Homo sapiens: one gene and its partners. Changing the gene in region 3 together with the main gene of any one other region gives a genetic interaction. Each region holds a gene or a part of one and is shown on either strand. Other genes may lie near its edges.

What was found.
Region 1: changes in XRCC1 (region 3) and PARG together harm fitness more than expected from each alone (negative genetic interaction), as found in Homo sapiens cells (one study listed by BioGRID).
Region 2: changes in XRCC1 (region 3) and ATR are lethal when combined (synthetic lethality), as found in Homo sapiens cells (one study listed by BioGRID).

Annotation. Positions count from the first base shown.
Region 1 is NC_000010.11:49,854,924-49,862,032, reverse strand, and holds part of PARG (poly(ADP-ribose) glycohydrolase), read left to right. Parts: intron 1-369; coding exon 370-445; intron 446-4,579; coding exon 4,580-4,727; intron 4,728-7,109. UniProt on the Homo sapiens protein: Poly(ADP-ribose) glycohydrolase that degrades poly(ADP-ribose) by hydrolyzing the ribose-ribose bonds present in poly(ADP-ribose). PARG acts both as an endo- and exoglycosidase, releasing poly(ADP-ribose) of different length as well as ADP-ribose monomers.
Region 2 is NC_000003.12:142,561,657-142,568,765, forward strand, and holds part of ATR (serine/threonine-protein kinase ATR), read right to left. Parts: intron 6,499-7,109; coding exon 6,407-6,498; intron 4,606-6,406; coding exon 4,465-4,605; intron 1,454-4,464; coding exon 576-1,453; intron 1-575. UniProt on the Homo sapiens protein: Serine/threonine protein kinase which activates checkpoint signaling upon genotoxic stresses such as ionizing radiation (IR), ultraviolet light (UV), or DNA replication stalling, thereby acting as a DNA damage sensor.
Region 3 is NC_000019.10:43,572,482-43,579,993, forward strand, and holds the start of XRCC1 (DNA repair protein XRCC1), read right to left. Parts: upstream 3,047-7,512; 5' UTR 2,978-3,046; coding exon 2,927-2,977; intron 2,522-2,926; coding exon 2,429-2,521; intron 1-2,428. Other genes in the region: PINLYP (phospholipase A2 inhibitor and Ly6/PLAUR domain-containing protein), read left to right, coding at 4,639-4,780, 6,109-6,225. UniProt on the Homo sapiens protein: Scaffold protein involved in DNA single-strand break repair by mediating the assembly of DNA break repair protein complexes. Negatively regulates ADP-ribosyltransferase activity of PARP1 during base-excision repair in order to prevent excessive PARP1 activity.

The DNA of each region.
Region 1 (7,109 bases), on a different chromosome or scaffold from region 3:
TTATTGCCAAATTTTTTCTACATTTTTCCTCAGATTGCCAACTCTAGCCATAACAAAATTTCATAGATCTTAATTTTTTTAATATTTTGTAATGTTTTTCAACTGTTTTAAAGAAGAAAAACTTTCATATTATTTAGAGGAAAATCAGGTTTCAAACTATGTTATCCAATTTTAATTTAAATATGTATATTTACATGTTTGAATAAAGGAGGATCAATACCAAGAATGTTAACAGTAGGCATCTGTTTCTGACTTTCGAGATTTGGGGTGGTTTCGGTTTTTGAATAGTTACCTATATTTTCACTTTTGTCCGCAGTGAACAACTTGTCATTAAAATAATAAATAAGGGAATGTCTTTTTATATTGTAGATGTGAAAAACCCTTGACACGATTGCATGTCACTTACGAAGGTACCATAGAAGAAAATGGCCAAGGCATGCTACAGGTAGGTGAATCTTAGTAGTGTCTGTGTATGGTTAGGACTTTTTCTTGTCAAGCTTCTGACAGCAAAAGAAATTTGAAAAACTGTTTATTTGTCTCCTAAACTGATTTAATGCAAAGAAGCATGATAGCAGAATGAAGAAAAACACCAAACAGATCACTTTGACAGCCTTGGTAATGTTGTGATTTGCCAGTGTATACTCTCTGTTTCTTATATGTGCTTCTCTAAAAAGCCTTTGACAGAAAATCCCAAGATCTGGACAGCATCAGCCTCTTGGTTCAGACATTGATAGTAGGTTGACAGTGGAGGAAGTTCCCAGGGTATAGTCTTGACAGACTGTCACCAGGCATTTTTATTCTTTTTCCTTAAAGGCTCTTCTTGCTCTGCCCCAGTTGATGACCAGATGGAGATGTTTTTCTGCCACCAACAGCTTTGTTTAGGTTGAGGGGGCAGACATCTAAAACTGATTGATAAGAAAGGCCTCTCTCTCATATGTAACAGTTTCACGCACGTGAGCTAGCTGTTTGCTATGTCTTTTCCCTGTTAAAAGCAGGTAATTCTGGTCCACTTCTCAATCTTTGTTAATAATCTGTTACCGCCTTTACCTTTAAAAAGTATTTTTGGAGAAGGGGGTTAACAAAAGCCCCGTGTTTAAAATATAGTAATATCTAACCTAATCTTTTGATTTATAATGCTTCTTTAACATTCACTAATGTTAGTGTTTTGTGTTCTTATCCCATTTATAAGAGCATTGTAAACTGAGTTTTCTTTGAAAGAAGCTTGTATACCATCTCATTTATACTGATAATAGTTTATTTTTCTTCTTAGATTCTTATTTGGTGCTTATATTGGTTCAGAATCTAAAGAAAGCAGTTGCCTGAAAATGGACTGATTTGTTTGAATAACTTAATGCTCACTATAAGATTTACGTCTAGTTATTATTTAAATGAAACTGAGATTCTTTTTTAAATGGCCTTTTATTTGGACATATTTGTAATTAAAATCTTCAAAGAGACAAACTATGTTTTATTCTAAATCACCTTCTCCCAGTGGTTATTTGAGCTTATAAACAAAAACAAAACATATTTAAATTTGCATTTACTCCTATACCTTTTTTCTGTTTAAAAAATAATCTTAAAATATGCTTAAATATTGGTTCAAATTAGTATCACTTTTTCCCCCACATTCCCCTCTTGATGAAGTTCTTTCCATCTTTAAAGTCTTGGATAAACTGAGAGATTCTTAATACACATGAACTAAACAAAGTTACTGCTAGTTAGCACCACAGGAATGCTGACCTTTCATTACAATACAATTCAACAAGGAATTATTTAACAACAGTTAAGGTTGAGATCCTCCCCACTTCCTCGGAATATATTATAGATGGAAATGTGAGACCTCGGTAGATTAGAGAATACCGTAAGGGCTTCTTGCTATTAATTGTTCTCCCTACCCATGCCATGTCTCCGCAGGAGATCGGGGAATATTGTATTGCAATGCTACAGAGCTCCTTGTGTAGCATATAAATTACATGATGCTGAATGGCAACAACAACAAAACCTCTCTGAGGAGCTTTATCATTCCTGTCTTTTCATCAAGTTATAATTCAGAAGCTGAGTAATCTGAATGAGTAGCTTTAAAGTGACTTGGAAAATAACTGGCTAAAAATAAGGATGCATTCACATTCTTGTTTTCATGTACTGGAACAGGTTTCTCAACTGTTGTAGAGGGTCTTTATTGTTAAGAACTTTTTTAAGTAGTAAAACTTTGGTTTTCTAAAAGACTTTGGCATTTAGAGGCATACTGAGTTTAGTGTCTTTATTTCTGTGCACACCTTTCAAGTTAAAAATGTGGGCCTTTTATTCAAAGAGTAAACAATAACATACACATTGAATGTATTTCATCATCATTATCAAGTAGTACATAAGTTGGATAGAGCTTATCTTTTTATTTTTGTTATGTACCTTATTCCAGTAAAAATTAAGTTAGGCCAATCTTAAACCTCGTCTGTTTCTCATTTGTAGTCACAATATCATTATACTTTTAGGCACTCAGCCAGTCTCTTAGTTCTCAAGTACAGTCCATTTTATTTCTTTACCGAGTTTCTTCTCTTTCCTTTACTTTACCACTTTCCTGTTTGAGGCCCTAGTAGTGCCTGTATAAACTATTTAGTACTCACCTAACCAGCATTTTTACTTTTAGTTTTACAGTTTTCCATTTATTCTTTAAACTCTAGCCTGAATTATCTTCCTAAAACATAGGTCCAGGTGTTACTTGAATCTTTCCCAGAACCTTCAGAGGGAAATTGAGTAAAAATTCCCTAGACCTCAGACCACCTCATCACCAACTGTAAGCCTCCACCTACTCTACACTGCAGGCAAGCACAATGAATCTGTTTACCATTCCCCTCATATAGTGATTTACATTTGTTTTTTTTTTTTGCCCTGTGTCCTTGTGCAGCTATGCCCTCAGCCTGCATGTCAGCTGCCACATCCCCTTGTAAAGCTTTCCTATCTTCCTCCCATGCTCCAATTTTAGTTAATTGTATTATTAGAAAGTATCAAATACATAGTAACAAGCTCTTCAATAATCATCTTCTCATTCTGCTTATGCTCATTCTGACTGCCATCTAAATTACAAATGCCGTGAGGCCAGGAACCATACATACCTTATTCATCTTTGTATCCAGTGATTCCCAGCACAATACTCAGTAAATATTTGTTGAATTGGACAGTTTAAGCCATGAATCACCCAGTGCCCATAGACCTCATATGTAGTAGGTAGCTAATTCTAATCAACAGACTGGTTTCACCAAAATTATTTTCCTATTTAAGCTAAAGAGTTACTCTGGTTTTTTAGCATTGGTTTTAGTACTCCAGAACACAAATCCAAATATATGATTCTCTCTGGTAGCTCAATTGAAGAACTCCTCAGTGGTATGTTTTAGTATTTTCTAAGTTCTCCTGTGGTAAAAGAAGACTGCTTCGCCTTCTATTAATTTCTGTCTTTTGACATATATTTTTACATATCAAACGATTCATACTATTGTTTTACTATTTTGTAAAATAGGCTTCAGATTGTCATTTAGTATCAGTTGCTTTAGAGAACACTGAAGTTTTAAGAAATCGTATATTTTAAAATAGTTTGAAAGAATATAAGCCTCATGGTATTTAGTAAATCCTATTTTACTTGTGTGTATGACTATGTATATACACAAGTTGTGTGTGTGTGTGTGTGTGTGTGTGTGTGTGTGTGTGTGATCTAACTCCTCAGATAGTCTCACTAAGGAAAAGATGGTTGCTATTTCTTACATACTGCTTCATGAGGCTGGCATAGTGCTGGACACACTGGACAAACGGAAATAATGCCAGCAAGTTGAGTTTGCTTTCTCTGGAGGATTGTGTAATTCTTCTTTATTAGTAGGCATTTGGGGATCCCATCATACTACTCCACATAAAGCTTAAGAGTTTCCAACCTAATTGGAAATATTACTTTAATTGAATCTTTGTTGCTATACTGGGTTTTCTTTCTTCCTTTTTTCCTTAGTTATATTTTTAAAAAGTAGTTTGTAATGTTCATGTAGTTTGGGGTTTGGGGTTGAATTTAGAAGGACAAAAATTCGATCTCTTTATTCTTACAATAAAGTTGGAAAAGGTTACCCAAAAAGTTGATTACTAAACTTTTCAGTTCTTTAGGGCAAGTGTTTGGTTACCATATTACATAAGAAAAGTTTAATTATATTAAAGTCACGTGAAATACATAAAGGGAAGTTGAGTAGTGAATGGGGGAGAATGACTTTGAAACCTTCCCAGATAAAGACCTCCCTTGATTTGTGGCCCATGAGACACAAATAGGTTTATAAACAAGAGTCTGTATGATACATAATATTTTGCCTAAAAGCTCCATTTTCCAGATTGCTTCTCTGGTTCTGGGATCCAGAAAAATGTGCAGAGATGTTAACTGCAGTGAGGTGGAAAGAGCTTAAGCAACCAAAATCTGCCCTTCCTGGGAAGATTACTTATTTGGGGATTGATTTTCATGGGAGAGGAAAAGATGAGAGCTTAGAGACTATGTGCTTCTTGATCATATGTGTAGGTATTTTTGACCATTATTTAATATGTCACATTTCCCCAACAGGTGGATTTTGCAAATCGTTTTGTTGGAGGTGGTGTAACCAGTGCAGGACTTGTGCAAGAAGAAATCCGCTTTTTAATCAATCCTGAGTTGATTATTTCACGGCTCTTCACTGAGGTGCTGGATCACAATGAATGTCTAATTATCACAGGTTAGTTTTGGGAAGCCTGGAAAATGGGGTAGTCTTCCCCATCTGTGAATATCTGTCATGAAGACTAGAGACTACCCAGTATAGCTTTTATCTTCCATGGGCATCAGTCCCAATATTTTTATCCATTAATTTATACTTAGTTTTTGAAATTATTACAGCCTTATTTTCCTAATCTTAAGTAAGACATCTTATTTTTACCTTTTCTTTCTTTCGTGGCATCTTTATCTGAGGAACAGGGATTAAAAACTATTCAGTTACCCCACAGTTTGAATTTTTTTTTTTTTTTTTTTTTTTTTGAGACAGAGGTTTGCTGTTGTTGCCCAGGCTGGAGTGCAATGGTGCAATCTCGGCTCACCGAAACCTCCTCCTCCCAGGTTCAAGCGATTCTCCTGCCTCAGCCTCCCGAGTAGCTGGGATTACAGGCATGCGTCACCACACCCGGCTAATTTTGTATTTTTAGTAGAGACAGGGTTTCTCCATATTGGTCAGGCTGGTCTCGAACTCCTGACCTCAGGTGATCCGCCCGCCTCGGCCTCCCAAATTGCTGGGATTACAGGCGTGAGCCACCACGCTTGGCAGTTTGAAATTTTATGACATAATAATGCTCTTAAGAAGAACATAGTGATATGCCTCTAGTATGTATTCTGTTGTAATTCTTCCATTTGAGAGTGATTTGTTTCTATTAAAAATAATTTTCAAGTGGTTTCTTGTACTTTAGTATGAAGACATTGTGTAAATATAAGAAGCACAGGAACAGTATTTAGAGAAATCAGTAACCTTTTGTTTACCCTATTTTGAATCCTAAAAGAAAAAGTTCAGTTATCATGGCCAGGCGCGATAGTTCATGCCTGTAATCCTAGCGCTTTGGGAGGCCAAGGCAGACAGATGGCCTGAGGTCAGGAGTTCAAGACCAGCCTGGCCAACATGATGAAACCCCGTCTCTACTAAAAATACAAAAATTAGCCAGGCACGGTGGTGGGTGCCTGTAATCCCAGCTACTCAGGAGGCTGAGGCAGGATAATCACTTGAACCCGGGAGGCAGAGGTTGCAGTGAGCTGAGATCGCGCCACTGTACTGCAGCCTGGGCGACAGAGCAAGACTCCATCTCAAAAAAAAAAAAGTCTGATTATCTTGGTGTTTCTTCTTGTCCTTCTTGATTTCTTTACGCTAATATGGGAGGAGGAGGGGGGAAATTTAGTCACGTGTATGCTTTAGGTCTGTTATAGAGATTTAATTTTTTTTTGTTTCTTCAGACTGAGATCACTATGTAACAGTATTTTCTTTGAATAAGCTATCAAGAAAAATGATGATTACCTCATATCTCTTAAGAAACTCTTAATCAGGCACCATATGTAAGTTGAGTCTTTTATTCAAGTACGTAAAAGAATATTCCCACATAAGTGCCGTTAATGCACCATGAGTTGCTGGTACTATTTTTTTTTCCTGAAAAAGTGGATTTTTTATTTCCACTTAGAATCTGTTACTGCTTGGAGATGAGTTTCGGGGTCTAAACACTCACCTGGGTTGTAGAATTTAGTTTATTGTTATTCCCAAAAATTATAATAGGAGAAAAACCCTCCCCATGAGTTATATAAAATGTGTACCCAACCGCATTACCTCCAAAGACATACATGACAAAACCGACTCCAAAGTCTAATCTTGAAGCCACACTGTGCCTCAGATAGATTTGTAGACAACCTTCAGAAGAGTATATTTTCTTATGTTTTGCTTTTAAGATTCTCTTTGACTTTCAATGGTTTGAATATGGTGTGTCTACATGCAGATCTCTTTGACTTTATCCTACTTGAAGTTTTTTGAACCTCTCTAATGTTTGTTATATTTGGTAAATGTTGGGCCATTATTTCTTCAAATGTTTGTTCTTCCCCTTTCCTCATCTTCTGGGACTCCCAAATTACGTGTTTGTTGATTCACTTGATGTTCCACAGGTCTCAGAAGCTCTGTTTATTTTTCTTCATTCTTTATTCTTCTTGTTCCTGAGGCTCAGTCTCAATTGCCCTGTCTTCAAGTTCACTGGTTGTTTTTTCTGCTTGCTCTAAACTGCTTTTAATCTCACTGGTGAATTTTTTATTTCAGTTATTGTACTTTTCAATTACAAATTTCTGTTTATTTTTTATAATTTCTATCCCTTTATTTATTAATATTCTCTATTTGAGAGGCATCATTCTTATACTTTAGTTTTTTAGACATAGTTTTCTTTAGTTGTTTCAGTATATTTTAAATAGCTCATGTAAATTCTTTGTCTACTAAGTCCAACATCTGGGCTCCTCAGGGGCAGTTACTACTGACTGCTTTTTTTTTTTGAGTATGGGCCATACTTTCTCATTTCTTTCCATGTCTTCTAATTTTCATTTAAAACTGGAC
Region 2 (7,109 bases), on a different chromosome or scaffold from region 3:
CTTACCAAAATGCTATAAATTTTAATTCCCTTATAAAAAATTCTGTAAGGGAATTACCAACTTTCTTCATGTAACTTTAATCCAGCAAGATTAATAAACTAAAATATTTAATCAAGTTACTGCATCTCTGATGATTTTATTGTATTACCTGACTCCCACAGTCCAAATAGAAAAAAGCGCATAATTTGGCATGATTAATCATTCATAGGTTTTCTAAAAGTGATTGATTATAACTTGTCAGACACATAATCTGATTGACCAAAGCTTCTGCAATTAAGTTGGTAACTGCCCCCTTTTAATTAATAATGCAACAAATACATTTACACTTCACAGATTCTACTTAGAAACATTCTACTCCATTGGCAGTTCATTACCAACTTAATGAACAAATCCTTCTGAAATCAAAGTAAAAGTCCATAATAGTGAGCCAGACTACACTATGAAAATCATTATGTTCCAAATATAAATTACTATTAAAGATATTCTATTTTCTTATTATTACATTTTGCACATATGTATACAATTAAATGATGAACAAAATACATACTTAACTAGTAACCTGAAAAATTACTTACCTCTGCATCTACCTCAATTCCAAGCACATCCAAAAGAGCTTTACAAATATTTCTCACATAGACCTTCCTGACTTGTAAAGCAGATTCATACCCAGCTGGCACAAATTTAAGGAAATACTGCAGTAAATGGCACAAAGCTGCTTTTAGCAAATCAGACTTAAGCCGCATGAGCACACCGTCTTCAAACATGACACAGAGTTTTTCCAGCAGCATATTTAAATAGACAGGTTCAATATTTCTATAAGCTTCTGCTTCAAAGGGAAATAGTGTCTTTATCAGCTTTGATAATGGCTCTTCATAGAGTTTCAATTGGTCAGTATCCATTTCTACAAGGTGTTTTAATAATTCCAAAAATGAGCTGAAAAAAGTGCTAGCTGGTTGTGCTGGTAGTCCTCCAAGCTGAAAAAGTTCTGTTAAAAAGCTAATTGCTAGGGATTTAATTTTTGGACTACCATACTCTAGCAGAACACAACCTATCTGCCAAAGTAAGAGTTCTTGCCTTCTAAAAAACACAATTGCAATAATACGAGTAAGAACCATTAATAAAGTGACTTCAATAAATTCTAAATTTTGCATACTCATCAACTGCAAAGGAGCTGATTGTAAATATCCCATGTGTTCATCTAATTGACTTAAAAATCGGCTCATGACCACTGGCCATTCCACAGCATGACCCATCACATTTCTTCTATGGAGGTAAACCAAGTCTTCAAAAAGTTGTAATAATTCTTTTGTGAGTACCCCAAAAATAGCAGGACTCTTGCTTTTAAAAAGAAATAATAATGAACAGATGACTTCACAGATTTTCTTGTGTAACAAATGACAGGAGGGAGTTGCTGCAATCCGCAGAAGTCTCGTTATGATCCAATTACTGAATTCTTTGAAATAAACAAAAAAGATATTAAATAAACAAGTATATCCGAAGTGCTAATTCATTTGCTAAATCCTTGACGATTGACTTTTAAAGAATAAACTTCACTAACAAGAGTGTAAAACATTCTCTTCACAATGGAAACATAATAGTTTAGAACACAGGCATACCCAGTTTTATTGCACGTTGCAGATACTGCATTTGTCACAAATTGAAGGTTGTGGTAACTCTGCATCAAGCAAGTGTATCAGTGCCATTTTTCCAATAGCATGTGGTCACTTCATGTCTCTGTATCACATTTTGGTAATTCTCAAAATATTTCAAACATTTTCATTATTATCGTATCTGTTATGGTGATCTGTGATCAGTGACGTTTGATGTTACTATTGTAATTGTTTGGAGCTGTCATGAACCACACCGATATAAGGTGGCAAACTTAATGGATAAATGTATGTGTTCTGACCCACCGACCAGCAGTTCCCCATCTCTCTCCCTCTCCTTGTGTCTCCCTATTCCCTGAGACACAGTATTGAAATTAGGTTAATTAATAACCCTTACAATGGCCTCTATGTGTTCAAATGAAAGGAAGAGTCACACATCTCTCACTTCAAATCAAAAGCTAGAAATGATTAAGCCTACTGAGGAAGGCATGTTGAAAGCCAAGACAAGTTGAAAGCTAGGCCTCTTTCACCAAACAACCAACTTGTTAAAACAAAGAAAAAGTTTTTGGAGGAAATTAAAAGTACTACTCCACTGAACGCACCATTGATGAGAAAGTGAAACAGCCTTATTGCTGGTATGGAGAAAGTTTTTGTACTCTGAATAGAAGATCAAATCGTTAAAAGATGAGGAAATTTCCAGTAGGAAAAAAAGAAGATCAAACCAGCCACAACATTCCCTTAAGCCAAAGCCTAATCCAGAGAAAGGCCCTCAACATCAAGGCAAGACACTCCACCAGCACAAATATTACAACTTGTTGAAGGATGATATAATCGTTAGCATTTTTTAGTAATAAAGTATTTTTAATTAGGGTACATACATTGTTTTTTAGACATAATGCTATTCCACACTTAAGGTACAACGTAAACATAACTTTTATATGCACTGGGAAACCAAAAAATTCATGTGACTTACTTTATTGCAATATTCACTTTATTGTAGTGGTCTGGAACTGAACCCACAATATTTCTGAGGTATGCCTGTAACAACTTTGGAGTCAGACAGGCAAGGTCCTAGCTTTCCACTTACTAGTTGTATAAACTTTTCATTTCTCTGAACCTCTGTAATTTCATGTATAAGGAGAATAATGCTATCTATGTTATGGGTTACTGTGAGGACCAAATAAGAAAATGCACATGAAATACTCAGCACAGTTCCAAAGTAAAATAAATGTTCAATAAAGGGTAGCTATTGTCATTCTTTCAACTAAAATTTGAGTGGTGACTCTGTCTCAGGTACACAAGAATAAATCAGTCATAGTCCTGTCCTCATGAATCTCACAGTACAGTTTCTTGAGCTTTTTGACTGCAACAAAGAAATAACATTTTATATCATGACCCAGTACATATACATGCATTTTATTTAAATATTTAAAACAAAAGGTTCATTAAATAGTACTTACTCTTATTACATACAATGTACTATAATATTTTCTTTTTTTTTTTCTTGAGACAGGTTCTCACTCTGTTACCCAGGCTGGAGTGCAACGGCATGGTCTTAGCTCACTGCAATCTCTGCCTCCCAGGCTAAAGCAATTAGTGTGCCTCAGCCTTCCAAGTAGCTTGTACCACAGGCATGTGCCACCATGTTCAGCTAATGTTTTTCTGTTTTGTTTTGGTTTGGTTTGGTTTGGTTTTGGTAGAGACAGGATTTTGCCATGTTGCCTAGGCTGGTCTCGAACTCCCAAAGTGCTGGGATTACAGGCGTGAGACATCGTGCCCAGCCTATGATATTTTCTAGTTTATTTCATCTTGTTTTAAATGCTGATAATTGCCTAATTTCATAACCCACTAGTGGGTTATGACCTGTAGTTTAAAAACTACTGTAGGAAAGAATATAGACAAACCAATGATTAGAGCACAGTTTAATAGCCTCTATGATAGATGAAATGCAGAACACTTAGTACTAAGAGAGAATAAAGGAATAACCAAGCCAGTTCTAAGCAGTTAGAAGTAGTGCTCAGAAAAAAACTTCTTGGAGGACATGCTATCAAAGTTGAGTTAAAGTTTGAACAAAAAATTTTAAAATACTTTATCCATTATACAAAAAAAATGTTTATTTTGCATCTCTTTATGAAGACACCAATGAAGGGACAAAAGTAGTAGGTGCAATAAAGAATAAGCCTAGAGAAAAGCTTCAATATATAGAATAGCGGTCAGCAAACTTTTTTTAAAGGACCAGATAGTAATATTTTTGGCTTGAGTGCCCAAGTTGCCTTTGTAGTAGTCACAGACAATAAGTAAAAGAATGAGCATGGCTGTGTTCTAATAAAACTTTGTTTACAAAAACTGAAGCCAGGCACAGTAGCATGTGCCTATGGTCCCAGGTATGCAGGAGGCTGAGGCAGGAGGATCCCTTGAGTCTACCAGTTCAAGACCAGCCTGGGCAACATAGCGAGACCCTGTCTTATTTAAAAAAAAAAAAAAAAAAAAAAAAAGGAAACAAAACAAAACACCAAAACTTTGTTCACAAAAACAGGCAGCCACCCTGTGGACTACAGCTTGCCAAGCTCTGATCTAGAAGAAAGAGATTACCAAAAACAGAAAAAAGAAAACCATGCCAAAGTGTTCAATGGCAAATAAACAAATTTGATTATTTCTAAGTACCTAGTATACAATACTAAAAAGAAAACAATAAGGATATGTGAAGGAAAAATAACCATTACCATTTTGCTCCTTCAATTTATAGCAAAGCTGACCCAAAAAAGTATAATCCTGTACATGTAATATTTCAGAAGAGCAGTAAAAGGAGGATTTTATAGAACAGATGGCAAGTGAATGCATGAATAACAGCACTTACCAATACAACTGCCTTTGGCCTCATGGCTTCCACTCACATTTACAAACATAAGTGGGGAGGATTTCATGATATGCTGGATGAAATCAAGCAACATCACGGAGGTTGGCTGAGAGTCAGTTTTCTTTACAAGTTCTACAGCAACTAAAACAATAAGATTCATTTTAAAGAGTCATGACAAATTAAACAATGGTCCTTTTGTTAAGAAACCAGACTGTGGGCCAGGCAAGGTGCCTCACTCCTGTAACCCCTGTACTTTGGGAGGCTGAAGTGGGCGGATCACCTGAGCCCAGGAACTCAAGACCAGCCTGGATAAGATGTCAAGATCCCGTCTCTACAAAAAAAATTTTTCTTAAAATTAGCTGGGAGTGGTAGTGTGCCTATAGTCCCAGCTACTCAGGGGGCTGAGGCTGGAGGATTCCCTTGAGCCCAGAAGTTCAAGGCAGTAGTGAGCTACGATCACACTATTGCACTCCAGCCTGGAACAAAGCAAGACTCTGTCTCTTAAAATTAAAAAAAAAAAAACAAAAAGTGGGGTGGGGGTGGGGAACCAGACTTTGGTGACCAGAATTATATCCAGCACAGCACTCAACAACATTCAAGCTAAATTGATGGGGCTAAACACTACAGTCTTTTTTTTTTTTGAGACACAGTCTCACTCTGTTGCCCAGGCTGGAGTGTAGTGGTGTGATCTTGGCTCACTGCAACCTGTGCCTCCGGGGTACAAGTGATTCTTCTGCCTCAGCCTCCTGAGTAGCTAGGACTACAGGTGTGTGCCACCACACCCAGCTAATTTTGGTATTTTTAGTAGAGACAGGGTTTCGTCATGTTGGCCAGGCTGGTCTCAAACTCCTGACCTCAGGTGATCCACCCACCTCGGCCTCCCAAAGTGTTGGGATTACAGGCGTGAGCCACCGTGCCCAGCCAACACTACAGTCTTATCTAATTTTAAATGTTTAAAAATCACATGCATTCCTCTACCATACATCTATTTATCAAACATGTACTTCAGGAATAATATGCCAGGCAATGCTAAAATCTAAGGATTAAAAAAAAGTTCTCACAATCCAGTGGGGCGCCAAACAAACCAACTAATAATTATAATACAATATGGTAACAGCACTAATCCAGAATAAGGAGAAACAGGTATCTGGGAGGACACTGTGAAGGAAATGATTCCTAGATGAGGAGTTGGTCAGAGAGGGGAAGGGCAAGTAGTCTAAACGGAGGGAATATGAATACGATACAAAAACACATCTTGTAAGTATTCAGTAGTCCTTTGTTATTTTTCAGCAACCCATCATTTTACTGATTGAAAAAGAAAGGATTAATGGCTAGTCTAAGTCATAAAATCTGCGCCAAATTTGGAATCCAAATTATAAACCCTGAGCCTAATGCCATTTTATATTATCCCTCCCATGTAATTTCAACAGATATGACAAATGTGACACCATCTTGCCAGGTTGGTAATATTCTGTCTAGCAGATTGGCACAAACAGGCAATAATTGATTCAGTAACTCACATAATCCTATAATCTCCTATAGGCACAGGCATGAACCTACTTAAAGAGTAACTTACTTAAAGAGGTTTTTTTGGGTGGCATTTGCTATTAGTCTACCACTGGCATAACAGCTAACCAAAATAGGGTCCACATGATTGGTACTGGACAAATATTTTTACATATAATATCCAATATTAAAGAACTCATAGCAAGCAGTAGAAAATCTAGATAACAAACAGGAAAAGAGAATTATTTTAAAAGCCTAATTCAAATTTTGTAACAAGCAATAAGCAATACTGATTAACAAATAACTTGCTTGAAAATAGTAACTATCATAAATACTCCATATCTAAAACTACATGGAGAAAATGCTACTATAATTTATACATGGAAAAGAAAAGTCTAATTTATAAAGTTTATATAAGAAATAATTGGTTTCTTACCAACATTTACATCTGTAAGTATCCGGTCAATGAATTGACACAGAATTTGTCTTGGCTTCTGTACAACTGTATTATATTCCTCTGGTGTGGCACTAAAATACAAATTAAAAGCTTTTAATCCTTAAAGTGACTCAGTTTCATTTGCAAAAAAAATTTCTCTAAAGTAGAACTCATCAAATGTGTTCAGTGTCAATGTTGATATTCACAGTATTCTTCTGTTTAAAAATTGAAAAGAAAATCTGAATATGTTACCAACTTACAAGAAAAAAAAGAATATGCTAAGTAATACTAAAGAGATCCAATCAGCAAAGCCTAGACCTGAACTTCTCAATATGGTGGCCACTAGCTACAAGTAACTAGGGAGAACTTGAAATGTGATTAGTACAAATTGAAATGTGCTATTGATGGCAGTGGCAGCCCAGTTGGAGCGGTGAGGAAGGTGGTGCTAGGGCTGCTCTCTCCAGGGCGCTAGTGGGCAGAAGCCCCGCCCCCTTCTGAGGTGCAAGACAGGTGGAAGCCCCGCCCCCTTCCGAGTTGCAGGGTCGGGAGCCCAGCCATCCTGGGTGCAGCTGCAGCCGCCCAACCACGGCTGCAAACCCAGGCATCCCTGCTCTTTCCAGGGCCGGGAAGGCCCCCTGCCCTCACAGACTTGGAAATGCCTGCTCCCGCTGCCTGGCCTCTCCCCGCTCCCGGCACCCACACC
Region 3 (7,512 bases):
ACTGTCAGCAATCTGTATCTATCACAGTTTAAAAGACTGAGGTCAGGTGCAGTGGCTCATGCCTGTAATCCCAACATTTTGGGAGGCCAAGGTGGGTGGATCACTTAAATTAGCATTTGGTGCTCATTTGCCTTGAACTCCTGAGGTCAGGAGTTCAAGACCAGCCTAGCCAACATGGCAAAACTCGGTCTCTATTATAAATACAAAAATTAGCCAGGCATGTAAATTCCAACTACTCAGAAGGCTGAGGCATGAGAATCATTTGAACCTGGGAAGTGGAGGCCATTAGTTGACAGGCACTAAACACTGACATCAATTGGGGTGGACCAGATGATGTTACAGTAACAAAGGAGTCCCTAATCTCAGTGGTTTAAAACAACCAAGTTGTATTAACTTACACTGTAATAATGCTGTGTAACAAATCATCCTAAAACTGAGATCTTTTCTTTTTTTTTTTTTTTTTTTTTTTGAGATACAGTCTCACTCTGTCTCACAGGCCGGAGTGCAGTGAAACCATCACAGTTCACTGCAGCTTCAACCTTATGGGCTCAATCAATCCTCCCCGCTCAGCCTCCCTGGTAGCTGGGACTACAGGCATACGCCACCAAGCCCAGCTATTTTTTATAATTTTTCGTAGAGATAGGGTTTCCCCATGTTACCCAGGCTGGTCTCAAACTCCTGGGTTCAAGCGATTCACCCACCTCGACCTCCCAACATGAAAACTGAGACTTATACCAACAAGCATTCTTATAAGAATTTGTGGGATGGCTGCTTTGGCTGCAGTTTGGGAGGATTCAGGTCTCTTCCATGAGATTCCACAGTTTTCTGGGATTAGCAGTAACCTGGCAAATGTTCTCATGGCATATTATGGGAGCACAAAAGCCAAGTGCATTTAAGGCCCTTGCTGAAGTTAGATGTGCTGAAATTCCATTAAGTAAATCATATGGTCAAACTCATCAATGGAGCAGGGAAATATACTCCCCCTCCAGTGGGAGGGAGAGGAGTGGATATTTGCTGAATGACTGCCCATTCACAAAAGGTTAATTTTTCCGTCACCCTAGCACTATCCACAGAGTGTTCTGCTCCTTATAGTCATAAAGCAGCCCCCAGGCCAGGAACAATGGTTCATGCCTGTCATCCGAGCACTTTGGGAGGCTGAAGCAGGAGGAACGCTTGAGCCCAGGAGTTTGAGACCAGCCTGGCAACATGGTGGAAACCCCATCTCTAAAAAAATACAAAAAAAACTAGCCAGGCATGGTGGTGCACACCTGCAGTCCCAGCTACTCAGGAGGCTGAGGTGGGAGGATCGCTTGAGCCCAGGAGGTAGAGGCTGCAGTGAGCCAAGCCAAGATCATGCCACTGCACTACAGCCTGGGAACAGAGTGAGACTCTGTCTCAACAGATAAATAAAAGATTGACTGTCAGGCAAATTGTATAACTTCTTTGGGCCTCAGTTTCCTCATCTGTAAAAGTGGGGATAACAGAGCCTGCCTCTTGGGGTTTTTTATGAGGACTCAATGAGCTAATCCATGTGAGTGAGGTGTGTAGAGCAGCGACTGACAGGTAACGTTGAATAATGCCAGCTCTCATTATTATTATTTTATTTTTTATATTTTGGGGGTCTCACTCTGGTGCCCAGGCTGGAGTGCAGTGGCACAATCTCAGCTCACTGCAGCCTCCATCTCCTGGGCTCAAGCAATTCTCTCACCTCAGACTCGCCAGTAGCTGGGATTGCAGGTGCACACCACCATACTCAGCTAATCTATAAAATTTTGGTAGAGATGACATCTTACTGTATTGCCCAGGCTGGTCTCAAACTCCTGGGCTCATGCAATACTCCAGCTTCGGCCTCCCAAAGTGATGGGATTACAGGTGTGAACCACCATACCTGGCTATTATTCTTTAAAAAAAATTATTTATTTTAATAAAAATAGAGACAGGGTCTTGATATGTTGCCCAGGCTGGTCTGGAACTCCTGAGCTCAAGCAATCCTCCCATCTCAGGCTCTGAAAGTGCTGGGTTTACAGGCATGAGCCACGGCATCCGGCCAGTTTCCCCTTCTTTAAAGTGGAGTTGATTGGCTTAGACGACCTTCCTGGACACCTTCCAGCCCTGAGCCCACTGGCTGCAGGAGGCAGAGTACGTGGCAATGATTCATTTTGTTCCAGCTGAGGAAACTGGAACCCAGAAAGTAGATGCCACCTGCCCAGGACCACACACTGATTCCTGTGGTCATCCTGGACTTAATCCTTGGGTCTCCTTTCCTCTCTGCTGAGGGGCACAGGGATTATGCTGCCCATTTTCCGAGTAAGGAAGCTGAGGCCCAGCAAAGAAAGTGACTAAACCCACTGCCAGTTGGCTCAGGAGCAGAATCTGGAACCCCGGACTCCAGACTCCTAGTGAGGAGGAGGTGGGGTGGCAGGATCACCTGTAGGACCACAGAGATGGTCTTCTCGCCTGCCTTGGCTGCCCGCCATTTTCGGTAAGTGTCTGCCTTGAGAAGATTTTCTGCACAGTGAGTCTGGAAACAACAGTGGGAGAGGAGAATTAGGGCACAGAGATGACAGCTAGGCCTCCAGCTCTCAGATGATTCCTTTGAGTCCTCCCAAGGCCTCTACGACCCCCAGATTTAAGCTCTCCCGTTAATCCCCCGACACTCTGCCTGGAGTTTCCCCTACAACACTTTCCCGTGGAAGTTCACCTATGGGCTCTCCAAGAAAGCTTCCCTATTCCTCCTTTTCTCTCCGGAAGTTCCCTAGACGCCGGAACGTCCCTAATTCAACATCTCTCCACAATTCACTTTTAGCCTCCTGGAAATCCCCCCATGACTCTCCTTAGACTTCCAAGAGAACCCCAAAAGCTCTTTTAAGAGCTATCCTCATTAATTCCCTCACGTCTTCCAACCTCCCCCATGCAGGTCCCTCACCGAGTCCTGGCTGCTGCAGGACACGACATGGCGGAGGCGGATCTCCGGCATGTCAACGTCGTGGGCTTCGCCTGGCCAGAAGGATGAGGTAGAGTATGGGGTCCGAGGGGCAGGGAGAGTGGGAGGGGGCGGGGTGCGCCCTGCGCTGGCTAAAGTGCGCAAGCGCGCGAGGCTCGGGCCTTTCAAACCCCGGCGCGCCGGCGCCGGCGTCGACACTGCGCAAGCCCAGTCGCGCCTCTCCAGAGCGGGAAGAGCGCTGCGTTCCTTAGCAACGAGCGTTTCCTCCAGCCCCGCCTCCCTCCGCCACACACAACCCCGCTCTAGCCTCGCCTCCCAATGACGTCCGAACCCTGCTTTCTGGGAGCCTAGCAACAGAAGCGACCTCCGGGATTGGTGTCTGGAAGAAATTCGCCTTTCTCATTGCACGATGGAGTTACCGCCCACACTGAAGCCGAGAAAGCAAATCTTTTTGCTGTATTATTATTTATTTTATTTTTTAAAAATTTTTTGTTGAGACAGGGTCTTGCTCTCTCACCCAGGATGGAGTGCAGTGGCACGATCTCGGCTTTCTGCAACCCCTGTCTCCTGGGGCCAAGGGATCCTCCCACTTCAGCCTCCTAAGTAGCTGGGATTACACGCACGCGCCACCACATTCGGCTAATTTTTGTATTTTTTGTGGAGACATGGGGTGAGAGGGCGGCGGGTCTTGCCATGTTGCCCAGACTGGTCTCGAACTCCTCAGCTCAAGCGATCCACCTGCCTCGGCCTCTCAAAGTGCTGGAACTACAGGCGTGAGCGACTGCGCTGGGCTAGGACAGCAAATCTGAGTGAATTTTCGTAGTTTCGTAGGGAACCTGGATTCTACGCAACAGGATCTCTTCAAATGGCTCAGGCGGCTGCACTCTTCTCTCTGTCCCCTTGCCACACACACACACACGCACATATACATACATACGCGCGCGCGCACGCGCGAAAAAAATTAGCAGATCTCTTTCAGCCTTATGCCTGAGGCCAAAAGAGAAGGGTTCTGCGTCCTAAATATAACACAAAGCATGTGCCCAACCCCCACCACACACACACACACACACCCCTATCCTGGAGTTCTTCCACAAAAGCCTCAGTTTCCCAATATGTGGACTGTGGGCATCTGTCTTTTACTACGCCCGCCTATGACTGCCGACAGACATCCCTCTGTTCATTCGGTGCCTTGGAGACCCAAGGGTGCAGCCCTGGGTGGGGTCGCAGCTGGAGACAGCCCAAACACACAAGGAGTGTGAGCCGAGCACATGAAGAGAGGGGAAGGGAGACAAGGCACCCCGCACCCGCAGGACCAGCCTGGACATGCTGGGTGCTCCAAGGTGGGGCCCTACCCACACTGGGTGCTTCCTTGGGAGGAGAGGGGAAGAGAGAGAAGGAGAGGGAATCCCAGTTCTTGCAGCCACTGGGAATCAAGAGGCCCAACTCCGTCTTGGTCTTCAAGCAAACAAACAAACAACAATGGGCCGTGGGAAGGTGAGAAAACAGGGTGGTGACTTTCTGGGTTCTAATAGAAGAGGGGGATGGAAGCCCAGACTCCTGGGGTCTCCATGGAGGTGGGGGGCTGGGCACAAGATGCCCAGGTCACTTTTGGATTCTGGTTCTGCCTTCCCAACCCGGAGGCCACAGAGGACTGCCCTGGGTTCTGACCTCAGCTATTTCTCCCCGTAGGGTGAATGTGGGTCCAGACCCACCCCTCCTCAGCTTCCTATAAAAGCTGGGGACCAGGTACTGCTGATACACACACCATGAGGCTCTCCAGGAGACCAGAGACCTTTCTGCTGGCCTTTGTGTTGCTCTGCACCCTCCTGGGTCTTGGTAAGTGACAAGGGACCTGAACTGTCTCTGGGACCTCAGGAAGAGAGAGGTCCCAGATTGAGAGAGAGAGAGATATAGAGAGAGAAAGAGCCTTCAGCAAGTCCTCAAGGTGAACGGGGAGGCATTCTGGAAATTCAGATTCATGGAAGAGGCCAAGGGTAAAGGAAGAGAAAGCCTGGGGGTCCCAGAGAAGAAAAGCTCCTGTGATTGGATCCCTGAGAGAGGGGCTTGGTGGGCTCTGAATCCTCCATCCTCCAGGAAGGATCCCAAACACATCTCAATTCTAGGAAATCAGATGAGAGCATGGCTGGAAAGGGAAATCTTTAAAAATATAATTAAAAAAAAAAAAAGAGGGAGAAGGCCAGGTGCGGTGGCTCATGCCTGTAACCCCAGCACTTTAAGAGGCCGAGGCAGGTGGATCACTTGAGGTCAGGAGTTCAAGACCAGCCTGGCCAACATGGTGAAACCCCGTCTTTACTAAAAATACAAAAAAAGTTAGCTGAGCTTGGTGGTGGGCGCCTGTAATCCTAGCTACTTGGGAGGCTGAGGTGAGAGGATTGCTTGAAACTGGGAGGCAAAGGTTGCAGTGAGCCAAGATCGTGCCACTGCACTCCCCAGCCTGGGTGACAGAGCAAAACTCCATCTCAAAAAAAATACATTAATATCATATGATATATTTTTTTAAAAGAGGTAGAGAGATTTCCTTTCTCCTTAGACTAAGAAGTTCAGGCCCCAGCCCCCTCCTCCCCTGCACACAGGAGTCCAAGTAAGCCTCACTTTCCCCAGGACCCAGGTTTCTGGGCCCCTAGCTGTCCCCTCTCTCAGAACCAAGAAGTTCAAGTCCTCTGCCCTCCTGGTCCTCACTCTCCCTCCTTGACCTGGGATGCAGACCCTAGCCTCAGGGCCCCCTGCCTGAGCTCCTGCTGTCTACAAGACCTACATGGCACCTTCAAGGAGGAGAATCCCACATTCAAGAACCAGCTGGACCTGAAGTTTCACAAAAGTCCATGGAAACCTCCATCACGACCCCTCCCTGCCCCTGAGCTTTCTCAGCGGACCCTGGCATCCAAAATCCCCAGCCATGTAATTAGGCAAACAGGCTTCATGGTGGAGTCGCTTCCCGCCCCTGGAAGCAGCTTTGCTGGCATCACCACTGCTTCTTCGTCCAACTCTGGACAGTTCCTTGGGCAGTGGTCAACATCCCGCCCATGAAAAACCAGGGAGCTGCTGGTCCCTCCTCTCTCAGGACACAAAAGTCCTAAGTCAAAGTCGTGGTCCGAAGACCACACCACCCATGACTACAGCCTCGCCCTCTGTCTACACTGCAGGGTGCCCACTACACTGCGAAATATGTACGGCGGCGGGGAGCAGGTGCCATGGCCAAATGAAGACCTGCAGCAGTGACAAGGACACATGTGTGCTCCTGGTCGGGAAGGCTACTTCAAGTAAGAGGATGTGGCCTGGGACCTGGTGGGGAGGTGGGGTGTACCTTCAGGGTGGAAGAGACTACCATGCTGAGGGGGGATCATCATGGTTCTCAAGACGGGAGCGTGGGAAGAAATCAGTGGAGAGCAGGAAAGAGGGAAAGACCATCATGAGATGGAGGGAACAGAAATAAGTGGTGTGATAGAAATCATTATTGTCACAGAATTCTGAAAATGACACTGTCCTAAAGAGAAGGAAAATGTGGGAGGGGTGAGAGTTAATAGACTTTCTTAGGCAGAAGAGGGGTAAGGAAAGACACTGTGGGGGGCAGAGAAATAGTGAGAGGGGAAGAATCTAACTGGCAGGAGGTGGAAATGGTGGGGAGTGGATAGAGAAGGAAGAGGCTGGGCTGGGGTGGGAAAGTGTAAGTGTAATCAGGGAAGAGGTCATTCCTGACCGAGGGAGGAGAGATGATGGTGGAGTGTTGGAGTGGTGGAAGAGACAGAAAAGGGATCACCCCAAACAGGAGATGGATGATAACCTTGAAGTATGGAGCAAATCATTTTTTTTCTTTTTTGAGACAGAGTCTCGCTCTGTCACCCAGGATGGAGTGCAATGGCGCGATCTCTGCTCACTGCAACCTCCACTTCCCAGGTTCAAGCGATTCTCCTGCCTCAGCCTCCCGAGTAGCTGGAATTACAGGTGCGTGCCACCACACCTGGCTAATTTTTGTATTTTTTAGTAGAGACGGGGTTTCGCCATGTTGGCCAGGCTGGTCTCTAACTCCTGACCTCAAGTGATTCTCCCGCCTCGACCTCCCAAAGTGCTGGGATTACAGGCATGAGCTACCGTGCCTGGCTGAGCAAATCATCGTAAAGAGGAGAAGCAGAGACAGGGAGGGGGAGATGTGGATGAGTAAAATGAAAGGGAGGCCGGGCACGGTGGTTCACGCCTGTAATCCCAGCACTTTGGGAGGTTGAGGTGGGAGGATCGTTTGAGCCCAGGAGTTTGAGACCAGCCTGGACAACAAAAAGAGATCCATCTCTACAGAAAAAAAAAAAAAAAAATAGTTGCGCATGGTGGCACATGCCTGTAGTCCCAGCCACTTGGGAGGCTGAGGCAGGAGGATCACTTGAGCTTAGGAGATCGAGGCTGCAGCGAGCTAAGTGCACACCGCTGCACTCCAGCCTGGGCAACAGAGGGAAACCTGTCTCAGAAAATAAAATGGAAGAGAGAAGATGGGCATGAGTTAAATGAAAGAGACCACCCCAGACCTGAAAAATGATGGAGGAGAAAGGGAGCAATGG